Linked DNA regions of Homo sapiens: regions 2, 3, 4, 5 and 6 are each linked to region 1. Evidence: fine-mapped expression QTL. A gene starts in region 1. Each other region holds a variant in brackets. All regions are shown on one strand. Distances are from middle to middle.

Region 1 (4,088 bases):
CTCACTGAAAGCACATACTCTAGAAATAACTTCTATTTGCATTGAAAGTGACCTGATATATTAAGGATTTAATTACTCCATGAATCAGAATAAGATCCTTGTAAGATGAACAAAATCTGTGGGAAACTGCTTTGCAGTCCTGAATGAGTGCTACATGAAAACAGTCCAGTGTTCGGAGGGAACGTCCAGACTTCTGAGGCTACCTGGTGAGTGCTGCAGAAGGGGAACAAGGGAGCACGAGAAAAGTTCATGGTTCAACAGCAGCCTGTTCCTGGTGTCTCTGCGTTGTGACGGAGTTGGCACTGCTTCCCTGGTTTGCCCCCAACCCTCTCCCTCTTGTTACCATTGCTGCTCTCAGAGGTGTCTGTTCTTAATTCCCTTTTTCTCTCATTTTGATTCTTCGCTGTGTGCTGGTGCTTCACACGCTGACGACTGCGTGCTCTCGCCTCTCCGAACATCCAAGGGCCTTTAAAATCTCACCCTAGTCACCCATGTCTCTTACTTCCCTTAGGCACACAAATGCTCTGCTGTCCCCAAGCGAATGTTGACCACGATGGCTGCCATCACCTGTGCTTGTCTTCCAGGGCACTCACGGGACACTCAGCATATGACGTGAAGCAGATTATTCCATGCTCTGGGAAGAGAACCGCTCTTTCTTTGCATGTCTGTGCTTAATGCAATCTTGAAGCAGACAAGTGCCCAGTACATGTTGGTGGCAGTTAGATGTAGAAAAGGGATCATGACAGAAGACTTGTTAACTGCCTCCAAATAACGCAAAACTTAGCATTACCTGGAAGTTTACCGTGGCTCAGACTCCAGTTTGATAACTTACAAAAGATTCAAGTATATAAGCATGAATGTCAGTTTATTCACTGCCAGACTTAATTCATCTCTTTTCCCTACCCCACATCAGGAAATGTATCTCCTGAGATCCTCTCCTGAATATTAATGGACAAACTCCATCAATATCTCATTACTATTTTTTTGACACAGGGTCTCACTCTACTGCCCAGGCTGGAATGCAGTGGTGCGATCACGGCTCACTCCAGGCCCAAGCGATCACCTCAGCCTCCCGAGTACCTGGGACTACAGGCATGCGCCACCAGGCCCGGCATTTTTTTTTTTTTTAAATATTTGTAGAGATGGGGTCTCCCTATGTTGTTGCCCAGGCTGGCCTGGAACTCCTGGGCTCAAGCCATCCTCCCACCTCCCAATCCCGGTGCTGGGATTACAGGTATGAGCCACCGAGCCTGGCTGCAGTATCTTATTTTTTAACTCTGTTCAACACTGACCCCACACCCCTTTAGATGCTCGCACCTATACGCTCTACCTTTCACACATATTTTTCAGATTAAGCAAAATACAATTTATTCCACTGAATAGAAAACGTTGCCTTCCATATCTGTCTTTGAATTTGTAGTCGTTCCGATTATAATTTGAGTTCTCAAACATTTGAATTACACAGTCTCTTGGTTCACTCCGACAGGTGTTTAAACAGGTGTGCGTAGGTCTTTCTACTTCAGCTCTCAGAGCCGGTCTTGTTTGCAGGTTAGTGGGTGGCGCACCTCGCGGTTGCTCCCACCCCACCCTTAGTAACAGGGTTTGAGTAGGACCCTGGGGTGGGGGAGTGGATGCTGCTGTTTCAAGCTCGTTCGCCCAAATACATCTTTCTACCCACCTTCCCTATCGTCAGAGAGGTGGCCTGACCCCAGCACGTGCAAGCTTGTCAGGCTGGGTAAGTTCCAGAACCTTCTGGAGCCAGGATTCTCTTTCCCAGCCCTGGGCCCTGAGCTCGGCGGATGGGATCTGCGAGGCTCGGGGCGCAGGGGAAATGGGGGCGTGTTCCTTTAAGGCGGAACCAGGCGGGGAGTGGGACGTCCCCCGCGGGCACAGCCCGAGCCGCACCTGGGGCCCAATTAGCCTGGAGCGCGGCCGGGTGTGTTGAACGTAGCAACCGCGGGCGGCGGGCGGCGGGCGGCGGGCGTCTGGGGCGGGCGGCGGCCGCGCTTCCCGGGGCTCCTGGCCCTTCGGCCCTCGGGGGTCTCACGGCGCTGGGACGAGGCGGGGCTGCTCTCCGCAGCCGGGGCGCTCGGCGGACGGACCCGGGCCGGGGAAGGGCGACCCCAGCGGCGCGGAGCTGAGCGTCCTCGGGGAGGAGAGGGAGCCAGGGGCCTCCGGGGCTCCGGGTGCGGGGACCTCAGGCTCCTCGCCCCGGCCCGGGCCGCCTCGGCCGGATCTCCGCGGTCTGAACTCTCGGGCGGCGGCGAGGACGGCGTGTCCACTGTCGAGGCATGAAGGCTGCTGTGCTGGACCTTGGGTCTCTCTTGGCCAAACTCTTCGAGACCTCGACGGCGCCCCCCGCAGGCCCCTCCTCCAGACCCTCGGGAGGTGCTGCCGCTGCAGGGTCGGGGGGCTCCAGGGCGGGCACCCCGTTGGGTACCGCCCCGACCCTCCTCCGCGCCCTGGCTCCGGACTCCCCCTCCGCCTCGCGGCGGTCGCCCGCCCCGCTGCTCTCCTCCCCCTACTCCCGGGGCTCCGCCGCCAGCCGCGCCGCGGGAGCAGTGGGGACCCTGCTCTCTTGGCCCAGTAGCCCTAGAGCGGGTAAAGCCCCGCCCCAGCCCCCCACTCCCTCCGGCGGGGGCTGCTCCCCTGCTCGCCTGGTGGTCCCAGCGCGGCCGCCCTCGGGCCCCGGCGGGGTCTGGGCCGCGCTCCCCAGGAACCCGCTCCAGCCTGGCCCCGGAGAGCGAGAGCTCGGCGCCTGCGTGGCCCCCGGGGCTGGCCCCAGAACCCTGTTCCTTACGCTGCCTGACATCGGCGAGGAGGGGGCCTCGGACGGCGACTCCGGGGATGGCGAAGCGTGAGTAGCAGCGTGGTCCGGGCGCGTGTACCTTTTGCCGGGACCCCCGACCCCTCCGCCTGCCGCACTCACCTTCGCAGGTGCACTTCAGGAAATGAAATATTTGTAGTAACTTTCATAACCCCCTGGGCACCCTCCTTGCACGTTTCCTGGGTTTTTACTCCTTGGCTTTGCGGGCTTTCAGACATAAGCTGTGACATGCTTTGTCCAGCTTTCTCAGAGTGAATCCTAAGGGGCCTTGAAGGAAGGGACAGAATTTTGTTTCTCTTCTACCAGAAGCATTGCTACTTAGAGTGTTTGTTTGGTTTTCTTAAGGACTTTTTGAAGTCCCTTTCTTTGTCTCAGAATATAGCAGGTGTGCAGGGAAACCGAATACACACGTCTGCAGCAAGTGTTTTAAGAAGTGGTGAGACCTGGTGCTTTCCTAATGTCTAAGGACCAGTCCCTAGTCTTATCCTAAGTGGGATGGGTCTCCTTTGTGTGACATCTAGTTAATTTACATATGCATGACATCATCTGACACAAATGGAGTTGTAATGGCCAGGACACGTCTGATTATTACCCTAGAGCTCCTGAGAGCTTTCCACAGTGCCCTGAGTCACTGCAGAAACGTTGACTTCATGGGAACATTTTCACTGGGAATCGGAGGCCGATTCCCTCAACACACACACACCCACACAACACCCCTTTCACTTCCAAGAGTCGTGATAAAAACATTGCTCTTTTAAAATGTGTTTTAGAACTAGGATGAATTTTAATTTTTAGAGTGGAGCATATCGTTAGCTATTCTTGAGTGGGTAAATTTTCATCCTGAATGCTGCAAAGAAATAGTGAAATGGTCAAAGACAGATGAGCCAATTCACAGACTGAGGTTTCTGCATTGTAATCTAGTGAGGCCATTCCCTACTCCCTCCAAAAAATCCTGAGTAATTTTTGCATTCATACTGATCCTGACTCACTCACAATTTAAATAATTACAGTTTCACAAAATTGAATGATATTCATGTCAATATGAAAACAAGCGGCCGGGCACGGTGGCTCACGCCTGTAATCCCAGCACTTTGGGAGGCCGAGGCGGGCGGATCATGAGGTCAGGAGATCGAGACCATCCTGGCTAACACGATGAAACCCCGTCTCTACTAAAAATACAAAAAATTAGCCGGGCGTGGTGGTACGTGCCTGTAGTCCCAGCTACTCGGAAGGCTGAGGCAAGAGGATGATGGCGTGAACC
Region 2 (4,090 bases), 40 kb after region 1:
ATGACTGTTGATTTAATCTACATTTGGGGTGGTTTGTTATGGGGTAATAGATATCTGGGACACATTCACACATATACATCCTAGCTGTGTGACCTCGAACATGTTACTTAAGGTCTCTGACATCAGTATTTTTATCAACAAAATTGTAATAATAGTGTCTACCTACTATGGGTGTTAAATATATGTAAGAATATATGTAAAATAATATATATAAAAGTAAAAGCAGCTAGCATATGTTTGGATCTTAAATGACTTTGTGTTCGATTTTTACTTTTTTTTTTTTTTTTTTTTTTTTTGAGACAAGAGTCTTGCTGTCTTGCCCAGGCTGGTCTTGAACTCCTGGGCTCTAGTGATCCTCCCATCTTGGCCTCTCAAAACACTGCGGTTACAGGTGGGAGCCATCACACCAGACTCCTTTCTTTTGTTTCCCTGGCATGCCCATCCTCCCACCCCTGGCAATATAAATAATATCAGCAAGTCTGTGTGGGCTTAAGATACCATAGTTTTCCTGATAGATATGTATACACATACACACACATCACACATATACACATATACATGTATCAGGATTTAAAATCTCATTAATTTTATAATTTATAACCACTTACCACTTTTATAAAAGTGGGGAGGATTCCAGTGTTCTTAGTTCAACAATGGATTACTGTTTTGTTTGTGTTTGTTTTTTTGAGACAGAGTCTCCCTCTGTCGCCCAGCCTGGAGTGGGTGGGGCGATCTCCGCCTCCCAGGTTGAAGTGATTCTCATGCCTCAGCCTCCTGAGTAGCTGGAATTACAGGCACGCACCACCACACCCAGCTAATTTTTGTATTTTTAGTAGAGACTGGGGTTTCACCATGTTGGCCAGGCTGGTCTTGAACTCCTGATCTCAAGTGATCCGCCCACCTCAGCCTTCCAAAGTGCTGGGATTACAGGCGTGAGCCACCCTGGCTGGACTACTGTTTTTGTTATTGGTAGTGATTTCTTGTCACCGTGCTAGGGTGGTGCATCAGAAATAAACTGGGCTTTTTAGTAAAAACTCGGAAATACATGGTTTACCTCTGTAAATACGGGATACTTGGCAGGAGAAATTGTACCTGTTGAAACTTAGATGGCCTCAGCTCTCAAAAGAGACTGGCTACGGCAGGACGGGGATGAGTGTTGTACCGGCACCCAGTGCACTAACTGTCATTACTAAAATCCCTGTCGTGGGAAAGGCATGCCTCGTGCAGTGCCCACCCTCTGAGACTCAAAAATGTAGTTCACCTCCGCGACCTCACCCCTTCTTCCCTTAGCATGTGAAAATGACGGCTTGGCAGTTTCACCAGCTCACAGGAGAGCGTCCAGCTGCTCTGCTCCTGGTATAATCCTGGGCCTCCAAAACTGAAACGAGCACATGGTAACGCAAGCGGCAGGCATGCTCGGGGTGTGCAGGAGATGCACCGGCTTGTGTGAGCCGGTAGGGCAGGACGGGCGTGGAAGGGTCCACGTCTTTAGTATGCATGCTTAGATCTAGCGTTCCTGTTGATGGAGTAATGGTTCTCGCATTGACCAGATCCGGGGCTTCATTTTTTAAACCTCATTCGTCCACTCCCCACCCCAGCCTGGTGTGCGCACCCTTTGATGGGGCGGGGATAGGCGAGATGGTCCTGTGGTTCTCTGCCTTCTTCTGGTGAATTAAAATCCGATTTGGAAGAGAGAAGGGCAGCCAGCACCAGTATGCACAGCCCCCGGCCCCAGAGACCCGGGAAGGAGTAGGGAGGCCGGGCCGTGCGCGGAGGAGTGGCCGCTGGGTTGGAAACCCGGCCCGGCAGGGAGCGGGGAAGGCGCGCTTTCCCGGAGGTCGGCGCGGGGCCGGGGCCGGGGCCGGGGCCCGGAGCGGGGATGGGCGGGCGCAGCCGGGATTAGCTGGCGGGCGAGGGCGCAGCGCAGGGAGGAGGAGGGGAGGCGGCGCCGGCGCGGGCGGGGCGGAGGATCTGGAGAGGGAAGGGGCGTGCGAGCCCCGCGGACCCCGGGCGCGCCCGGGCCGCCTGAGCTGGGCCAGCCGCGCGGCGGGCGCGGGCGCGGGCGCGGGCGCGGGCGCGGGCGGGTGGGGAGCCCCAGCCCCGGGGCCGCGGGGGCGCGTGACCGGCTGTCTGCGTGGGGCCCGCGCGCGGTGCCTCTGCCTGAC[G/C]GTGCCCGAGCCTAGCGCGGAGCCTGGCGCGGGGGCTGCGAGCACAGGCCCGGGGCTGATCGTAATCGGGTGAGTCTCATCCGGCAGCAGGGCTCGCCTTCTGGCCGCTCTGCAGGCGATGTGCGCGGTGTTCTCCGCCCGCGGGCCGGCTGCGTCTGGCCCGGGCTTCCCTGCAGGCACTCGGGAAGCGTCAGGCCGGCCCCGGGCATGGCTCACGCGGGGAAGCGTTCGCCGCCAAAGGGACTCCTTCGTCACTGCGGTCGCTCCTGGGACTTGCTGGTGTTGGGTCAGGGCGGTGTGAGTGTTCCGTGCTGAGGAGCGGCTTCCCATGGCCACCCTGGAGTGCCCCTGTGTGTCCCCCCATCCAGAAAACCAGCCTGCATTTTAACCCGTTCAGAGTACAGTGCTTATGTCAGACAGTCCTGTCAACTAGGAATAGAAAATTTTGAAAGCTGCTGTCACTGACATTAGAATTTCTACAAAGCAGTGTGGCAGAGGTTTGTGGGCTGTCAAGAAGCAACCTAAAACAGTAACTCTGGATGATGATTTTCCTGACAGCTGGAATGGAGTCATGGAGATTGGAACTCACCCTTAACCTCCATGCGCCAACAAATGAGTGCAGTCTAGTTTAGTGACTGCACTTCAGTCCACCCTACGAAGACCTGTCCCCAAATCAACAGCCTTGCTCTATTTAAACAGTATGGACAGGAACTAGTATAGAACTTGCATGTCTATGTTTAGAAGCTTCATGGACATGCCACCATATTCAAGTTTTAAAATACCTGTGGGATGCATCCTGTAAGTTGTGTACACTTTCTTAGACTGTGTAGGATACAGAACTAGTCCATAGTTTATAGGGGATTAAAGAGGTTCAACATTATGCATGAGGGACCAGTAACCAATCCTTGGTTAGAGAACAGAGAAACCAAAGAACCAAAACAAGATGTGAAAGAGAAAAAAAAAAAGAAAAAGACAAGAAAGGGATTTTGTAGGCTCTGCTGTTAATTCATGATGTTAGTAACTTGTGCCACTGGAGAGACAGGCAGGTCAGTGGCCTGGTTCCTCGAAGAAACTCTGTCCCTATCTTCTTTGTGCTCTTGGGCAATCATTGAGTTACGGACTTAAATTCCTGTTCACCTCGTTTTTTTGTGAATTGTGTGGTCAAGTTTGTATGTTATTACACTGAACTCTGAAGCTCAAGAAATTGCTTAAAAGGAGATACAGAGGGGAAGGTCAGAGAGGAAAAAAGAGGGAGAAATGGCATGGAGTAGGGGAGTTTTAAGGCACCTAATTCGTAATAATTGGTGTGACTGTTACCCAACTTCCCATTTCCCCCTGCCCTGCATCCCAAGACCTCCTGGGCTCAGCTCTGCGTCCAAGACAGTGGGAAGCCTGGTCCTGGAAAGGATGTGGTGTGATGTGAAGAGAGATGAGTTCCTCCGTTTTGTAAATAATTTTCTCCTTAATTTGAAAAGAGCTTCCACCCTTTCCCCTGAAAAAGAGTGAATTTCCTAGAGGAATAAATTATTCATTGAAACAAACTCGCATGCGTCCCATTTTGAATTTGGCTTCAAAGTTGCACAAAAGCAGGAGGAGGAGCTAGAAGCAGGATAGACCGTCTTGAGCAGAGCAGATGCTCCGTTTGGCGGTGAAAACCATTTGGGGGAATATCAGCTGCCCAAAGAAGAGCTGTGACTTTTTAACGAGTAAAACGTTATCCAATAGTGTCTTGAATCTGGGGAATATTTTCATGTCAGGTCACGATGTAATCCTATGTTTCAGGCATAAACATTCAGAGTAATTCTGTAGTGAAAATGAGTTCCGCATTTGAGTTGCTAATTTCGTCTTCGCCGTTTGAGTCTTTCAACCGAGGGCATCTTTTGTGTGACGAGTGTTATTTCAGGTGCTTAGCTTAAAAGATGAAT
Region 3 (4,090 bases), 100 kb after region 1:
TGCGGCACATACCGGGTGTTATTATTGCATGTCGGAGTAGAGAGATCTCACATCTTCACCTTGCCCATGTACTACACACACACACGCATACACTCATGTAAACCCATGCACACACATGCACACACTTACACACACACATATGCTCATGCACATACACATGCACAGACACATGTATATACCAACATACACACATTCACATATACACACATACACAAACACATGCACACACCTACATACACTCATGCACATACATGCACACACAAACATATGTATATCCACATGCGCACACACGTGCATACACTCACACACAAATATACACACACACCCAGATACTCATGCACATACACACACATGCACACATATACCCACATGCACACATGCATGCATACACATGCATGCACACATATACCCACATGCACACATGCATGCATACACATACATGCACACACCACCCCCCACAGAGGCACACATTCATGTACATTTATGCAATCATACAAAAACACATGTACACACCTACATACACACATGCGCATATACACATACATAGATGCACATATATACACACATGCACACATAAATGCACACAGCTATGTACACTCGTGTACATAAGCACAAAGGCACACACAAATACATGTACATATCCACGTACACACATTCATATATGTGCACAACCCCATACACATATGTACACACATGTGCACACACACATCCATCTCCTACCAGGAACCTCTCAATCTCACGTAAACAATCAGAACCAGACTAATGATTTTTCTTCCAACTCTAACATTCCTTGACATTCTAATTGTTTTCTTCTTTGCATTGAAAGGGAGGCAGCATACCAGGTGTGAGTGTGATACTGTGGCCTCCTCCACAGGTCGGTGCAGGCTGTGAGTGACACTGTGGCCTCCTCCACAGGCCGGTGCAGGCTGTGAGTGTGATACTGTGGCCTCCTCCACAGGCTGGTGCAGGCTGCAACTGCCCAGGTTCCAGCTGTGAGCTAAAAGTGGGCGTCCTCCCCTGCTCCACCAGTGTGCCTCGGTGCTTTACGTTTGCCTTATCATGCTTTCTGCAGTTGGCAGATGAAATGAAATCGGAAGTTCAGCAGACTCCTCTTATGCATTTGGATCAGGCTTCCGCTCATAAATTCAAGGAAAGCTATTAAAATTGTTTAGCCAGAATACTTCCTTCCGTACTTAGACAACTGAGCACAACGGGCCGGAGCTCATCTGGAGTTCCGAGTAGGTTTTGTAACTGCAAGTGCTAGGAAAATGCAGAGGCGCCGACCTCAGGACCTGTAGGCTGTGTCTTTTAAGAATTGCAGAATAAGCCCCGAGCAATTCATTTTAGGAGCTGTTTTATAAAACAAGTACTTTGAAGATTTCTGCACAGAGAATGAAATATTACAAAAATCACTTGTGCCACATAGGAAAAATGGAAAAGTGAGATCTTTTATAGAGGAAATAATTTGTTTTTTCTTTTTGTCCTCAAAGTTTCAGAGAGGTAGATTACTGTTATTGACTTTCCAGATACATTTTTTTTTTTTCTGAAGAACTCACCACTTTTGCATATGGAAATGTGCTAGGGAGATGAGGAGGTAGATAAGAAGCCAGGTCCTGAAATATCAAATGGGTGGGAAAGAAGGTTGCCCGAGACATTACACTAGCTTAAGAGGTGGAGGCGGAGACGTTACGCTACCGCTAAGAGGTGGAGGTGGAGACGTTACGCTGGCGTAAGAGGTGGCGGTGGAGACGCTACGCTGGCGTAAGACGCGGCGGTGGAGACGCTACGCTGGCGTAAGAGGCGGCGGTGGAGACGCTACGCTGGCGTAAGAGGCGGCGGTGGAGGCGCTACGCTGGCGTAAGAGG[C/T]GGCGGTGGAGGCGCTACGCTGGCGTAAGAGGTGGCGGTGGAGACGTTTCGCTGGCGTAAGAGGTGGAGGTGGAGACGTTACGCTGGCGTAAGAGGTGGAGGTGGAGCGTCCTTACTGCACAGGGTGTGGAGGGAATGGCGTGGGCTCAGCTGGCTTTGTCATCGGACACGCCGCAGGCTCAGTTTCTGCCTCTGTTTCCCACTAAGCTGTTTAGCACAGAAGAAGTTATTTAACCACATCTTTGGCCTCAGTTTTTAATCTCTGAATTGTAAAGAACAGTAATGAGTCTTTCATGGAGTTTTTGTGCAGATTAATTCAGTTTCTGCAAAGTGCTTAGTATTTTGCCTAAAACTCAGCAAGTATGAAATGAGGTTGTTGTCAATTTTTACTGCAGAGGATATGACTTAGAACCACACCTCTACCCCCTGGTGCCCGTCATCAACAGGTGAGGCCCACCTGACAGATGGGGGAAGGCAGAGAAGTACAGCCCTGACAAGCAGGCTCGTGAAAATCAGACTTTGTTCTGTTCACAAAGGCGCAGCTCACCTCGTGCCCATGGAACGCCGCCTTTATTAACACAGCACAGGCACGTCCCACCAGCGTGCAACACCGTGCGGCGTGGAACTGCCATCTCTAGGCATGAACCTCCGCTTTGCAGGCTTGTTTCCTTGTTTGTCACCGAGGCAAGGTGCTGCACAGAATTCATTTCTTATGTTTGCAGTCACAGTGCAGTCATCAAATCCAGAGACAATTCAAAAGAGGTTTCTGGTCACTCCTAATCATCGCAGCATAACTCTGCTTTTTAAGCTATTGTTTTCTGCATTTGTAGGGGCACGATACAACTGCAGCTGCAATAAACTGGTCCTTATACCTGTTGGGTTCTAACCCAGAAGTCCAGAAAAAAGTGGATCATGAATTGGATGACGTGTTTGGTATGTTTGGCCCCTTCACTGGTTATATTGTGGTACTAAGTCTGCTGCAGAGATGTCACTGTGTTGTAAACACAGTGTAATGAGCAGGAAGGCTCCCCCACGGGATCCTTTCCAGTACCATCCCCTTTGCAAGGCCTCGTCCATTCACTCACAGGCCTCTGCCAGTCGCCTGGCAAGTGACTGTACTAGGCCGGATGCTGGGGTGCACTGATGCGTGCTGCTGTCCTCAAGGGTCTCACTGCTACCCAGGCGAAACAGAGGCTTTGAGTCATGGGTCGTGCATTTGAGTGAAGAAGGTGCTATTTGGGAGAAAGGAGGAGCTGGTGAAACTATTTAGAAAGGTACAGGAAAGCTGTTTCGCAGATTGCCTCTCACCACAAAGGAGAGAAAATGTGGATTAAAAAGGTGGATTAAGCTTCGAGGAGATACATTTCTATTACACAGCAAGCAGCCCGGAGGAAAAGTCCTGCCAGTAGGATGTCCAGGGTCCCAGACTTGCCCTTTTGCTCCCAGCCATCCCTACCATCTTGGCTTTTGTCCTCATGATTGACGTTCCAAGCATCACGTTCATCTTCAAGGCAGGAAGACAGGGGAGGTGGGGGTACCGGGTGTGTTGGTGTCCTGTGGCTGCTGCTGTGACAAATCCACAGACAGGGAGGTTCACAGCAGCGACGTCTGTTCCCTCACAGTTCTGGACACCCGAGTCAAAGATCAGTGTCATTGAGCCCACATCACCATGTGGGCAGGGCTGTGGCCCACTGGGAAAATATCCACTCCTTGTCTCTTCAGCTTCCGGTGGCTGCCAGCATTTCTTGGCTGACAGCCGCATCACTGCTATCTCTGCCAGTCTCTGCATCGCCTTCTCTTTTCTCTGGGTGTGAGTGTGTGCACGCACGTGCATGCATGTGTGGTGTGTGTGTGTGTGCATGTGTGTGCTTGTGTGTCTTTCACAAGCATACTTGTGACATACTTGTGATGGCGTTCAGGGCTCACCTGGATAATCTACCCACTGTAAGATCTTTAATTTAATCAAATCTGCCAAGAGTTCTCTTCTTCCAAATAGGGTAACATTTACAGATTGCAGGGATTAAGACCTGATATTTTGGGGCCCATTATCAGTCTGCCACAAAGAGGCTTCCATAGATTTTATCCTTGTTAAAAATCACGTGTCATATGGCCCCCAATAGCTGCAAGGTGAAAAGGAATAAAGTTGAGTTAGCCAAGCAACAAGTGGTATCTGATGCAGTTTTACAGTGAGAAGCAGGGAAAGAAAACTAAAGGAATAAAGCTGG
Region 4 (4,090 bases), 73 kb after region 1:
CTATGGGAAATATGAAATAAGAAGCCACTGGAGCAGTTGAGTTTTGGGGATAGAATGATATAATCGACAAGAGATGATCCTGTTTCAGTCAGATGATAGTGGTAAGGCTGATGAGAATCCCAGGACTTTGCATGTGTTTTGAAATTTGAGCCAAAAGATGTGCTGTTGGATGAGAGGTGGAGTGTGTCTACCAAAAGAATCGAGAATGCCTCCAGGCTTTTGGCTTCACACTTGGAAGGATGGTGTTGACACTCACTGAAATTGGAAAGACTGCAAGGGGAACACGTTTGGCAGCATGAGGGGCAAGTTATGTGTGAGATGCCAATTAGATGCCTAAGTGGAGATATTGAGATATTTGGATATCCACACTTGGGTGTGGAGGTGAGGTATAGACTGGATGTATAAATTTGGGGATTGTCAGCACGTAGATGGTATTTAAGAACTGAAATGGATGAGGCAACCAAGAAAATGAGTGTAGAGAAATGGAGGAAAAAGAAGTACTGAGCCTTGTGCCTTTTAACATCTAAAGGCCTGGGATGTGAAGGAAAACCAGCAAAGCAGACTGAGAAAGAATGGCTGGTGAAGGGAAATAAGAGTCAGGAGAATGTGGCGTCCTCAAAGTATGTGTGTGTTTGTGCGGGGGAAGTGTTTCAAGGAAGTGATAGGGACTCAAGTATGTTGAATGCTGTTGATGAGTCAATTACGATGAGGTCTGAGAATCAGACTAAAGGTCTAGCCACATGGAAGTTACTGGTGGCCTTGACAAGATCTGCTAGGTGAATGGACAAGGCGAAAGTAGGCTTGCAGTGGGTTTGGGAGAAAAGAAGAAGAGAGAAATCCAAGACAGTAGTCATGGGCAAGTCTTCCAGGGAATTTTTCTGTACAGGGGAGTAGAGTATGTGTGTGTGTGTGTGTGTGTGTGTGTGTGTGTGCATGCACGTGTGTTTCCTAGTAAGGTTCATCTTGATGAATGTCATTATTCAGTATAAAAATGTTGATCCAAAAAGGAAGATAGCTCTAGTGTTCTCTGGAGGACATGCAGAGTGTATTCCCACTGGAAAATTAAAGAAAAAGCTGACAGAGCTGAGTGAATAGTAAGTTATAACTCAGAAGCAACATTCAGAGAAGGCTACACCTTGTGAAGGATGTCTTCAGAGTTCACAAAAAGAACATTGTGGGGGTGAAAGTTTTAGCTTAGAAGGCAAAAGATTTCAAAAATATACAGAATCAAAATGATGTTAAAAATAAACATGGAGGCATTCCACTACTGTTTATGAAAGAATAGTTCATGAGCAAACTGACCTACTGAGAACAACTATAAAAGCTATAAATGGACAAGAAACAGCTCTTTGGAGGCACGCGTGGACACCCACATCCACACCCACCCAGCCCCCCAAGACAAAGCAGCACAACTTCAGGAAACAAATTGGGAGACAACAGGAATAATACATTGAGATGAACCCCATATTTGCTACTGTTTTCTTTCCCTGTATCAATATATTTTAGATTAGTAATGGGGCATAGAGGCCAAGAAAAAGGGATACCCTCAAAATTTGTGACAAGCTCACTAGGCTGCCAAAAGGAATGATGTTGGGAAATGTCTCAGACTTTGAATTGATAATCTTGAAGGACTACACTCTAGGAGTAAGGGCAAGCTTAATACAGACAAGTCCTCAAAACACTAGAAGCAGAACCTAGAATCAATGAAACCTCTGTTTAGATCCAGGTTATATGCCTGTACTTTATATGACCACCAGAAAAAGTATCCTCTTTAAAGAAATATAGCATCACCTAGAATTTCTATTATTTTTATATACAATGTACAGCATTCAATCTAAAATTAAGAGACAGCCCAGGATATAGGGCCAAGTGACTGAAAGCCAAGAGAGAAAACAAAATTATAATGGACCCACACGTGATTAAAATAGTAGCACTATCAGGTACAAGCTAAGAAACAATTTGATTTGCACATTCAAAAATATATTGAAAAACAATTTCAAGAGAGAACTGTAATCTGAAAAATAATCAAACTGATATCCTAGAAATGAATAATACAATGACTCAATAATTCACTAGCTGTGTTGAACTGCAGATTACACATAGCAGACAAGAGGCTTAGTAAACTGGAAGGCAGGTCAATACACAGTATTCACTTTGAACAAGCATAAAAAATAGATATTCCTTAAAAATTGTGAGGCCATGTGAAAAAATCTCATATCCGTGTAATGATAGTCATAGAGGAGAAAGAGAATAGAACAATGCAGTATTGAACAGATACCATGAAAGAATCTTCCAAAAATAGATAGAAGACATCGATGCAGTCATTTAAGAAGCTATAAGAAACACAAGATAGAAAGCAAAACATACTCAGGTCCATCACAAACTGCTAGAAACCCCAAATCAAAAAGAACCAAACAGCAGTCAGAGGGAGGGGG[G/A]AAAGACTCATTATCTTCAAAGAAGCAACAATAAGACTAATATTTGACTTTTCAACACAAGTGATGGAAGCTGAAAGACAATATAAAAAGCATCTTTAAAGTGCTGAAAAAAATAATTGCCAACCCAGAATTTTATACGTAGTAAACATATACCTCAAAAATGAGGGCAAAAGAGCAGTATTTTCAGATAAACCAAAATTGGGAATTTATCACCGGCAAATCTGTACTAAAGGAAATACAAACGAGAGCTCTTCACAGAGTAGGAAAATTATCCCAGAAGGAAGTACAATGATAAAAGAAGAAGTAATAAAGATCAGAATGTATACATACGTGGGAAAATAGAAAAGAATACTTACTGTATAAAATAATGAGTAATACAGAATTCAGTATATATTTGGGATTAAAATATTATAGAAATAGCTTAAAATTGGGAAGGGTTTATTTGCTGTTAAAGTGTTATAGATTCATCATTGTCCAGGATTACTGTTCTAAGGTAGAGTTTTATAAAGCAGTGCGTGTGATATAGCGAGATGAAGGCACAAAATACTATCAGGAATGAAAATAGGCATACCACTGCTGATTCTATAGATGTGAAAAAAGATAAGCATTATACTATGAATAACTTGATTTGGTAATTTAGATGAAAATTAAAACTTTGAAAAAATCACATCACTCAAGAAGAAATAGAAAATTTGAAAAGGGTTATGTCTATTATAAGACTTAAATGTATTATTAAAAGCCTTCTCACAAAGACAACTCCAAGTCCTGCTGACTTCATTGGTTAATCCTTCCAAATATTTAAGGAAAAACTAATACCACTAGTAGCAATATCAAAAAGCTCTTCAGGCCTGGGCATAGTGGCTCATGCCTATAATCCCAGCACTTTGGGAGGCTGAAGCAGGAGGATTGCTTGAGCCCAGAGGCTCGAGGTTACAGTGAGTTATGATCACGCCACTGCACTCCAGCCTGGGTAACAGAGTGAGACTTTGTCTCTCTAAAAAACTAACAAAAAAGTTATTCAAGATGATTGTCATTTTGTAAGGCTACCACAACCCTGATACAAAACCTAACAAGGACATTACAAAAAAAAAAAGTAAATTACAATAAAGTAACTGAGAATTATAAAAAAAAAAAAAAAAGCGAATTATAGGCCAATATCATCCCTGAACTCCCAAGCAAAATCAAATCAGTAATATATGAAATAGATAATACGTACCATCCAAATTAAATTTATTTCAGAAATGCAAGTTTGATGTACCATGTGAAAATCATTCAGTGCAACAAATGATGTAAGGAAACAAGCATGGGATCTTCTCGAAAGATGAAGAAAATGTCTTTATAAAAATTCTTAGTCAACCAGGAAGATAAGAATATCACTGTTATCTCTTCATGAGTATCTAGGGGAAAAAAACAACTGCAAACTGCATACTTAGTGGTAATTTTATTCTGATTTTACTTACTGAAGAAGCTATACTTCCTGAGATCAGATAATACGAAGTGTCAGCTACCGCCACTGTTATTCATGATACAGAATATATTTTCCACCCCAGCAGGGCAAGATTAAATTATTAAAGGGTCTTAAGATTTAGGAAGAAAGAAACAATTTGGTTTTTCACAGAAAACATGATTGTGTACATAGAAAATCCAAAATAATT
Region 5 (4,090 bases), 46 kb after region 1:
AAAATAAGATTTCTATTGAAGAACAGAAGTTGTTGATTATTAAACATCAGGAAGATATTTTGACTAGAGGAAGTAAATGTTTTAAGCGGTTCATTGAAAGGACATTTCAATGATTAACAGGAACTGTGCTACACCAGTTAGGCTTAATAGTTTATTTAACATCTAGATATTTCTTCTGTTTTAGTTCTTCATTAAATTTTAATATCTTCTAACTCTTGAAAACTCAGTATACCCACAAACAGCAATGCTAGATTAAAGCAAGTTAGGTGTCTGTGTGGCTTCTGAGTCTAAAGAATTTGATGTTTCTTAATTAATATGGGATTAATGATTTTTTTACTGGAGGAGTGGTTGGGTTTTGTAAGTAAGTCCCTTGTCCCTGGTCAAGGGACAACTGGGACCTGAAATCCCTGAAATACTGTGAACTGTTTGGGGCAACTTTTCCTTCTCTGGCTGAGTCACAAAAAGTTGATGTTGTCTTCAGTTCACATAAAGGTACATATAGGTTAATGGCAACCTTGATTTTAAGAAAAAGAAAAATGATGACATCCTAAGTCTCAGTTTCATCAGGATGGGGTGTGTGTGTGTGTGTGTGTGTGTGTGTGTGTGCGCTCATGCACAGGTGGGTTTGGAGGGATGTGGCAGAACGAGAGGAGCAACTTTGTATAAAAGAGAAATTTTAAAAGTCTTAATGAATAAAACTATATTATTACATTAGGGAGACTCGTCATGTTTTATTTTATTTCCAGAAGAGGACTGTCAGAAGGACGTAGAAGGCACGGTTTTACTGTGAGGAGCAAAGATTCTTTACCTACGCATTTTACAAGAAATGTGCAGAAAGCCATTGATAAATATACCTGGTAAGAATTCACCTTGCTTCAGATTACAAAATCACAAAATGCCCGTAACAAATGTGGGAAGGAAGTTAGTGACTGGCCATGAATTTCTAAAAGTAAGATGCAGTTTTATTTTTAACCTAGTGTAAACATCACACTGTAAAAATATTTCAAAATTAGTATACTGTGAAATTAATAAATATATTTAATGAAAGAAAGAGGAAGCAGGCTCAGAAAAGTGAAGCCACTTAGCCATCCAAGCCCTTCCAGCAAATGTGATTTCTTTGCTCATGTTCATTCCTGCAGCAAATCCTTGTCATCCTTTTCCTCCAGCGGAAGCCATACACCCACGGGAGCCCACACCTCTTGGTCTGGGTCGGCCACACAGAGCTCTACCACCGGCTCATCCACGGAGAGGGGCTCCGTTTATTCCTGGAGAGATGACGTATGTCTCAGAATATTTTGGATAATCTTGTAATTACAGTTTATAGTGAAGAGTTGCTTCCTTATATTCAAAATTATTTTTACCAATTATAAAAGCATGACCTATTGCATACATACATGTACATACATGTAAAAGCATGTACATGTTACATGTGAAAATAATAGATCACGAACCGTGGAGGAAAACAGAACTCCCTCGTGACCTTCTGGCCCCGTCTTAGCTGCCCGCAGTTTTCTTGTTTCCACCCTGCAGCCGGCTCTCCGGGTGTGTGCTCCTTGTGACTTCTTGGATGGTATCCATGGCCGGAAATTCAGGACTTGAATAAGAAAGAAATGCTGGAAAAGTAAAAGCTGTGGCAGCCACTGTGATTAGAGAACTCCCCGCCAGTATTCCCAGTCGGATATTTCACCTTCACCCCCTACCGCTGGGGG[C/G]GCTGTTGCCTCTGAACTGCTTTTGTCTGTGTGAGCCTGGGATTCTGGCTGGGCGAGCTCTGCCTCCACTGCTCCAGCTTGCTCAGGAGCTCACTGGCTCCAGTCTCCTCCCTCCCCCTCCCTCCAAGGGTCTCCGTGGATCCCAGGACACAGCCCTCCTTTTTAAGGCCCACCTGGCTGCAGCACCTTGGGTGTTCTGTTTTACCTCGTTTATGCTGGGTGTTTTGTTGTTGTTGTTGTTGTTTTTTGCTTGCTTGCTTTCTCTCTCTCTCTGTCTCTTTTTTTTTTTTTTTTTTTTTTTTGAGACGGAGTCTCGCTCTGTCGCCCAGGCTGGAGTGCAGGGGCGCGATCTCGGCTCACTGCAAGCTCCGCCTCCCGGGTTCACGCCATTCTCCTGCCTCAGCCTCCCGAGTAGCTGGGACCACAGGCGCCCACCACCACGCCCGGCTAATTTTTTGTATTTTTAATAGAGACGGGGTTTCACCGTGTTAGCCAGGATGGTCTCGATCTCCTGACCTCGTGATCCGCCCGTCTCGGCCTCCCAAAGTGCTGGGATTACAGGCGTGAGCCACCGCGTCCGGCCTTTTCTCTCTTTTTTTTTTTTAAGACAGAGTCTTGCTCTGTCACTCAAGCTGAGGTGCAGTGGTGCCATGTCGGCTCACTGCAACCTCCGCCTACCAGGTTCAAGCAATACTCCTGTCTCAGCCTCCCGAGTAGCTGGGATTACAAGTGTGCACCGCCATGCCCAGTTAATTTTTGTATTTTTAGTAGAGACGGTGTTTCACCATGTTGGCCAGGCTGGTTTCGAACTCCTGACGTTGTGATCCGCCTGCCTGGGCCTCCCATGGCATGAGCCACTGCGCCCAGCCTCTTTGCTTTCTTTAAAAGTGGTTCCCCACTCCCACTGCACATGGGAATCCGCTTCTGTCCGCAGCTGTGCAGCTGTGATTCTCAGGGGAGCCGGCAGGGCAGGTGCACCGAGGGGGTCTGAAAGGGACTCAGCTCAGCACTGCTAGGAGGACCTTTCACGCACGCAGCTCCCTTACTTAGGGGCAGCTGCCTCCTTCCTCTCCCTTACGCCCACTCACCACCATCCCTCAAGCCCGCCTTCCTTGGTAGAAGGCTGAGCACCACTGCTTTACTCTGTCCAAATTCTAGGATTCTTTTAGTACAACGTTTAATGGAATTACCAGGGAAATTCGTATAACTTCCATTAATACTCAGGCCTCACCCTAATAACCACACTTCTTAGGATAACTAAGGATTTTTTTTTCCAGTTCATTGATTTAAGGAGATTAATGGCCTTTTCTACAAAAGTAATTTTCTTTTCTGTGGTATCACCAGAAGAAAAAAAAATCTTGTATTTTGCAGGTGTGCTTAGGTGTGTCAGGCACAGCTCTGTGAGGAGCTGCCTGTGTTTGCAGACATACAGATGTGGACGTGTCTGTGTGTCTACGCTGATGTCTGTGGCAGTATGAACACGTCCATCTATACCTCTATCTATGCAAATTCTTGAGTCTCATAACTTCCGTGGCAGAAGTTTTCTCTATTTAACAGTAAAAGAATCCGAGGCTCAGAATGAGATGGCATTTCTCAGAAAGGTAACAGCTAGAGCACAGGTGTGTCTGACTGCAAAGCCACCATCTTTTTACCAAGTGATGCACCCTCCTACATAGTGGGTGACAGTAAATGTATAAGTAGCGTTGATCCAGAAGCCCGCAGTTCTGTAACTTGCAGTGTTGTAACCAAGTGTGCATTTCTGTTTAGGAATTTGACGAAGCCAGTTCACAGTCAGTGCAGCGGTTACTCTGGGAGGTGGAGGAAATGTTATTTGAAGGGAAAGTGAACCCTCAGACCCAGAGTCTGCTGGCCGAATGCGGGGAGTGGACAAGAAGATCCCTCCATTTGAGGTGGGACCTTGGTGGTGGAAGTTCTCTGGGGTGGGTTTTCCAAGCACCCACCCCTGACCTGCCTCGATACATTCAGTACATTTGGTGTGAAAGTGCCTGCCCAGTCAGAATATGGATGCAGAGCGCAGTCCTTCACTGAGAGATCACTTTCCTCTTACGGCGTCTGAGGAAATACTGAGACATTCCAGTACTCAAGCGCCTTTTAATTTGTGAGAAGCAAATTCAGGCCATCCTGAGAAGGGCATGACACATATACGAATGCAAGAATGGTGGAGGCCACCTCTTACCTTCACATTCACTGTGTGTGAGCAGCACATGTCTGTCTTCATCACAGAACACAGCGAGGGTGGGCAGAGATGATTTGCTGAACGGCTGGATAGATGGGTCTTCCCATCTCACCCATTCCTTATGTAGGGAGGAGCATGTGTTACTTTTCATATCAAAGATGGAGAATATGGATTGGGTATGAAG
Region 6 (4,090 bases), 34 kb after region 1:
TGATTCTGCCTAATAATTACTCTCCGTGATAAATTTTAGCACTTACTTTAAAAAGTTGGGTTTCAGAACTTAGGTATTTCATTTTGAATAATGTACTAATTCTATATTTTTCTATAATTTTCTATAAGCTTGTGGACCTTATTGATTACCTAGGACTTTCTATGCTTTTTATACTCTTCATATTAAAAGTCTAAGTATTTTTCATCCTTTTTTGGATACAACATTTATAGCAATTTCAAAATGTCCTGATAATCTGTGCCATGTATAGGAGCTTTAGCGTCTCTGTATGATTTGTAGGGAGCTGTGGGAGTGTGCCCTGCAGGGCTGCAGGTGGGGTGCTCAACAAGCCAGGCTGCCCACAGCCTAAGAAGGTGGCTCTGCCTTTCCGTCCACCTGTCTGTGCCCGAGTTTTCTCACTGGCAGAATGGCATTAACAGCAGTGCCCCCTTCGAAGAATGATTGTGAAGCTCAAATACACTGATTGATCTCTCTCTCTCTCTCTCTCTCTCTCTTTCTCTCTCTCTTTCTCTCTCTCTCTCTCTCTCTCTCTCTCTCTCTCTCTCTCTCTAAGTGCTTAAAGCAGGGCCTGGTGTGTGGTACATATTCAGGAAATGTTAGTGGATACTATGGTAGAACATATTTGTTGTGTTTAAAATAGACCAATAATGAAAGGAACTTTAACAGAAATCAGCAAATTGGATTTGAGATGAATCTTTGAAAGCTAAACTTTTAAAGCTAGACTGGACTGATCTGGATAAAGCTGTGTACCCTTGGGAATTTACTGGATGTTGCTGACCCTCTTTTTTTTTTTTCTATATAAAAGAGTAGCCACCTTTCAGGTGGCTGAAGGTTTTGTTCATGTGGTGGTGTGAGGTTTACGAGTAAGGTACATTGGTCTCTGGCTCTAAGTGCTGGTCAGAGCGAAAGCATACCCTGTCCCTCATGCACATTCATATCATGTGCATGGTATGATATGTGCATGGTACGCACTTTCTGTCGGCTGTGCGTACCACCTACTGTTCACTGAAATGCTGACTTCTGATTGAGACAGGATTCCCTATCTATTCTGGAATGAAAATTCGGCAAATCCTAAATCTTGCAAAAAAGAAACCATAAAGTATTAAAATCTGGGCAAGGATTTTTTTTTTTATAGTGATGAAAGAGGGGAAATGTTGACATCTGGTGGCTTTCTGGCAATATTGCATGCCACCATTTCAATATTACATGCAGCCTTTCAATCCCAATCTAGAGCTATATCTTGGTTTACACAGGCTATTCCTAGAACATGCTCATAAAAGAAAAATTCTGTTATCATTTAATATCATATTTATTTATTGCAATTTCCTGGACTCATTTAAAACAATGTACTTATAAATTTCACCACTTAGGTAATTTTTAAATATTAAATAATATATTCTATATTTTTCTATAATTTTATATAAGCTATGGACTTCATAGTTTACCTAGCACTTTCCAAGATTTTTATACTCTTCCCATTAAAATAATAAAACATGATATTGTTTTATTAGTCTTCTATGAAGGAAGTTACCAACTTGTAAAATATATTTAAATGTATAGAGGAGGTTAATGCAAGCATTTTTAAAACAGACTTTTTATTTTAGAGCTAGATTTACAGAAAAGCAGCTCCCTATTATTCTGGTACATGTGTCACAACTAATGAACCAGTATCAATCCGTTACCATTAACTAAACTCCACATTTATTCTGATTTCACCAGAGTACTATTCAGGGTTTTTCAGAGAAGCAGATCAGACAGGATGAGTTAGTGAGTGAGTGTGTGTGTGTGTGTGTTTGCATGTGTGAAGAGGGAGAGAGATTTTTTAAAAATAGGCTCACGTGATTGTGGAGGCTTGGTAAGTCCAAAACCTGCAGAGGTGACAGATTATTTTGGGGGTTACAATTATATTTTAGCAAATAGGTGAATTTGCAAATAGTGA[T/G]CCAGAGAATTGCAGAGATTGGATGAGGTCCACCCCCATGATGGAGGGTCATCTGCTTCACGCAGGGTCCCCTAAACTGTATTAACCGTCACCACCAGTTTTCCCCAGTGCCCTTCCTCTCCTCCAGGGTCCACTTGACATTACATGGAGTTGTCACGTCTCCTCAGTGTCCTCTGATCCGAGACAGTTTCTCAGACTTTCTTGTTTTGATGATCACGACAGTTTAGGGGAGTACTGGTCATGTGTTTTGTAGAAGGCCGCTCCGCTGGGGTTCGCCTTGTGTTTTTATCATGGTGAGACTGGGGTTATGGGTTTGGGGGGGAAGGCCACAGAAGGGAAGTGCCTTTCTCATTGCCTCATTGCAAGGGTGCGTGTCAACATGACACATCACGGATGGTGCCAGCCTTGACCACCTGGCTCCGGGAGTGCTTGTCAGGCTGCTCCCCTGTAAAGTCACCCCCTGCTTCCATACTGCACTCTTGGAGTCAAGCTTCCATACTGCACTCTTGGAGAAGAAGGTATGATGCCCGCCTCCTGGAAGGGGAGACACACACCACTGGGGTAGAGTTCTTCTGTGGGAAATGTGCCTCTTCTCCCCATTTATTTATTTATTTGTTTATTTCTATCAATATGGGCTCATAGAAATGTATTTTGTACTTTAGTTATAATCCGATAGCACATGATGTATTTTGTTACTCAGGTTGTTCTAGCTTTAGCCATTTGGGGCTCTTTCAGGATGGCTCCTGTGACATGCTCTCATTCTTCTGTTGTTTTGGTTTTTGTTTTTTGAGCACTTTCCTACAGTCTGGCAGTACAAGATGCTCCAGGTACATTTTATATTGCCCTGCCTCAGCCCCCAAATCGGCCACTCCTCCATGGAGCCCTGGTCCCTCTATTGGAGAATAGTATTTGGTGTGGTCTGAATGTTTGTATCCCCCAAAATTCATAGGTTGAAATCTCTCTCCAATGAAATGGTACTAAAGGTGGGGCCTTTAGGAGGCGATTAGGTCATGATTGCAAAGCCCTCGTGAGTGGGATTCATGCCTTTATGAAGGAGGCCCTGGGGGCTTCTTCACCCTTTTGGCCATGTGAAGACACAGCTGGAAGGCACCATCTAGGAAGCATGGAGCCGGCACCAGACACTGAATCTGCTACCACCTTGATCTTGGACTTCCCAGCCTTCAGACCTGTGGGAGATAGGTAATGGCAAAAACTGCAGTTACTTTTGCATCCACCTAATACGTTTCTGTTGTTTATAAGTCACCCAGTCTATGGTATTTTGTCATAGCAGCCCAGATGGACTAGGACAGTGTTAGGAACTAAGATCTAGGCACTGGAGGTGCTCATTGCTACTGGAGACAGCTCTATGGTATAGAGAGATGACATAGTTGTATGTATATGTTTGTATTTGCAAAGCAAGGCCACAGTTCTGATATGCACAAGTTTCAGTTTATATGATACCCATGTAAAGCCAGGACTGCTCGTACTGGATAAATGTAAAAAACTGTATGTAACTTTTGTGTATTATATTGCATAATATTAAAATGAACTGGTTTAATACTCCACCTAACAAAAAAAACCACTCTCAATGCTTTAAATGCTGAAAAAAGGAATAATTTACAATTTATTATGTATCTATATGCAGTTTCCAAAATTTGTCTCTAATTCACACAACTCTACAAGGAAGACAGTAATATTAGCCTTGTTTTAGCTAATTTCTGCTCACAGCATTAAGTTATCAGCTCAGGATTGCATGGCTAGGGCAAGACAGAGCCAGCACGTGAAATCAGGTCAATTTTTAGAGGAGTTGCTTATAATTTTTGGAATAACTTTATATCTTATATTACTAATTAATTTTCAGAGGGTGATCACATAATCACATATACCACTTTTTATTTTTATTTTTTGAGACAGTGTCTTGCTTCGTCACCCAGGCTGGAGTACTGCAGCCTCCATCTCCGGGGCTCTAAGTGATCCTCCCACTTCAGTCTCCCAATTAGCTGTGACTACAGATCCATGTGAACACACCTAGCTTTTTTTTTTTTTTTTTTTTTTTTGTAGAGACAACGTCTCATTATGTTGCCCAGGCTTGTTCTGAACTCCTGAGCTCAAGAGATCCTCCTGACTTGGCGT

Evidence for each region.
Region 2: its variant is fine-mapped to the expression of FAM149A in skeletal muscle (GTEx, PIP 0.90).
Region 3: its variant is fine-mapped to the expression of FAM149A in whole blood (TOPMed, PIP 0.97).
Region 4: its variant is fine-mapped to the expression of FAM149A in prostate (GTEx, PIP 0.97).
Region 5: its variant is fine-mapped to the expression of FAM149A in blood mononuclear cells (TOPMed, PIP above 0.99).
Region 6: its variant is fine-mapped to the expression of FAM149A in whole blood (TOPMed, PIP above 0.99).

Annotation. Positions count from the first base shown.
Region 1 is chr4:186,102,786-186,106,873 of GRCh38, forward strand. FAM149A (family with sequence similarity 149 member A) reads left to right here and starts at 1,919. Exons shown (of 14, transcript NM_001395294.1): 1 at 1,919-2,857. The coding sequence starts at 2,292. RefSeq lists a silencer at 1,839-1,898.
Region 2 is chr4:186,142,879-186,146,968 of GRCh38, forward strand. All of the region lies in intron 1 of FAM149A (family with sequence similarity 149 member A), which reads left to right. Among named protein-coding and RNA genes, the nearest start is that of FAM149A, 40 kb to the left of the region's middle. RefSeq lists enhancers at 874-1,374, 1,375-1,875. The variant G/C (reference allele first, on the strand shown) is at 2,166.
Region 3 is chr4:186,202,505-186,206,594 of GRCh38, forward strand. CYP4V2 (cytochrome P450 family 4 subfamily V member 2) reads left to right here. Exons shown (of 11, transcript NM_207352.4): 8 at 2,696-2,798. Among named protein-coding and RNA genes, the nearest start is that of CYP4V2, 13 kb to the left of the region's middle. The variant C/T (reference allele first, on the strand shown) is at 1,866.
Region 4 is chr4:186,176,020-186,180,109 of GRCh38, forward strand. No RefSeq gene overlaps it. Among named protein-coding and RNA genes, the nearest start is that of FLJ38576, 13 kb to the right of the region's middle. The variant G/A (reference allele first, on the strand shown) is at 2,436.
Region 5 is chr4:186,148,427-186,152,516 of GRCh38, forward strand. FAM149A (family with sequence similarity 149 member A) reads left to right here. Exons shown (of 14, transcript NM_001395294.1): 2 at 747-857; 3 at 1,140-1,278; 4 at 3,477-3,619. Among named protein-coding and RNA genes, the nearest start is that of FLJ38576, 41 kb to the right of the region's middle. RefSeq lists an enhancer at 294-1,493 and a silencer at 1,512-1,707. The variant C/G (reference allele first, on the strand shown) is at 1,710.
Region 6 is chr4:186,136,452-186,140,541 of GRCh38, forward strand. All of the region lies in intron 1 of FAM149A (family with sequence similarity 149 member A), which reads left to right. Among named protein-coding and RNA genes, the nearest start is that of FAM149A, 34 kb to the left of the region's middle. The variant T/G (reference allele first, on the strand shown) is at 1,958.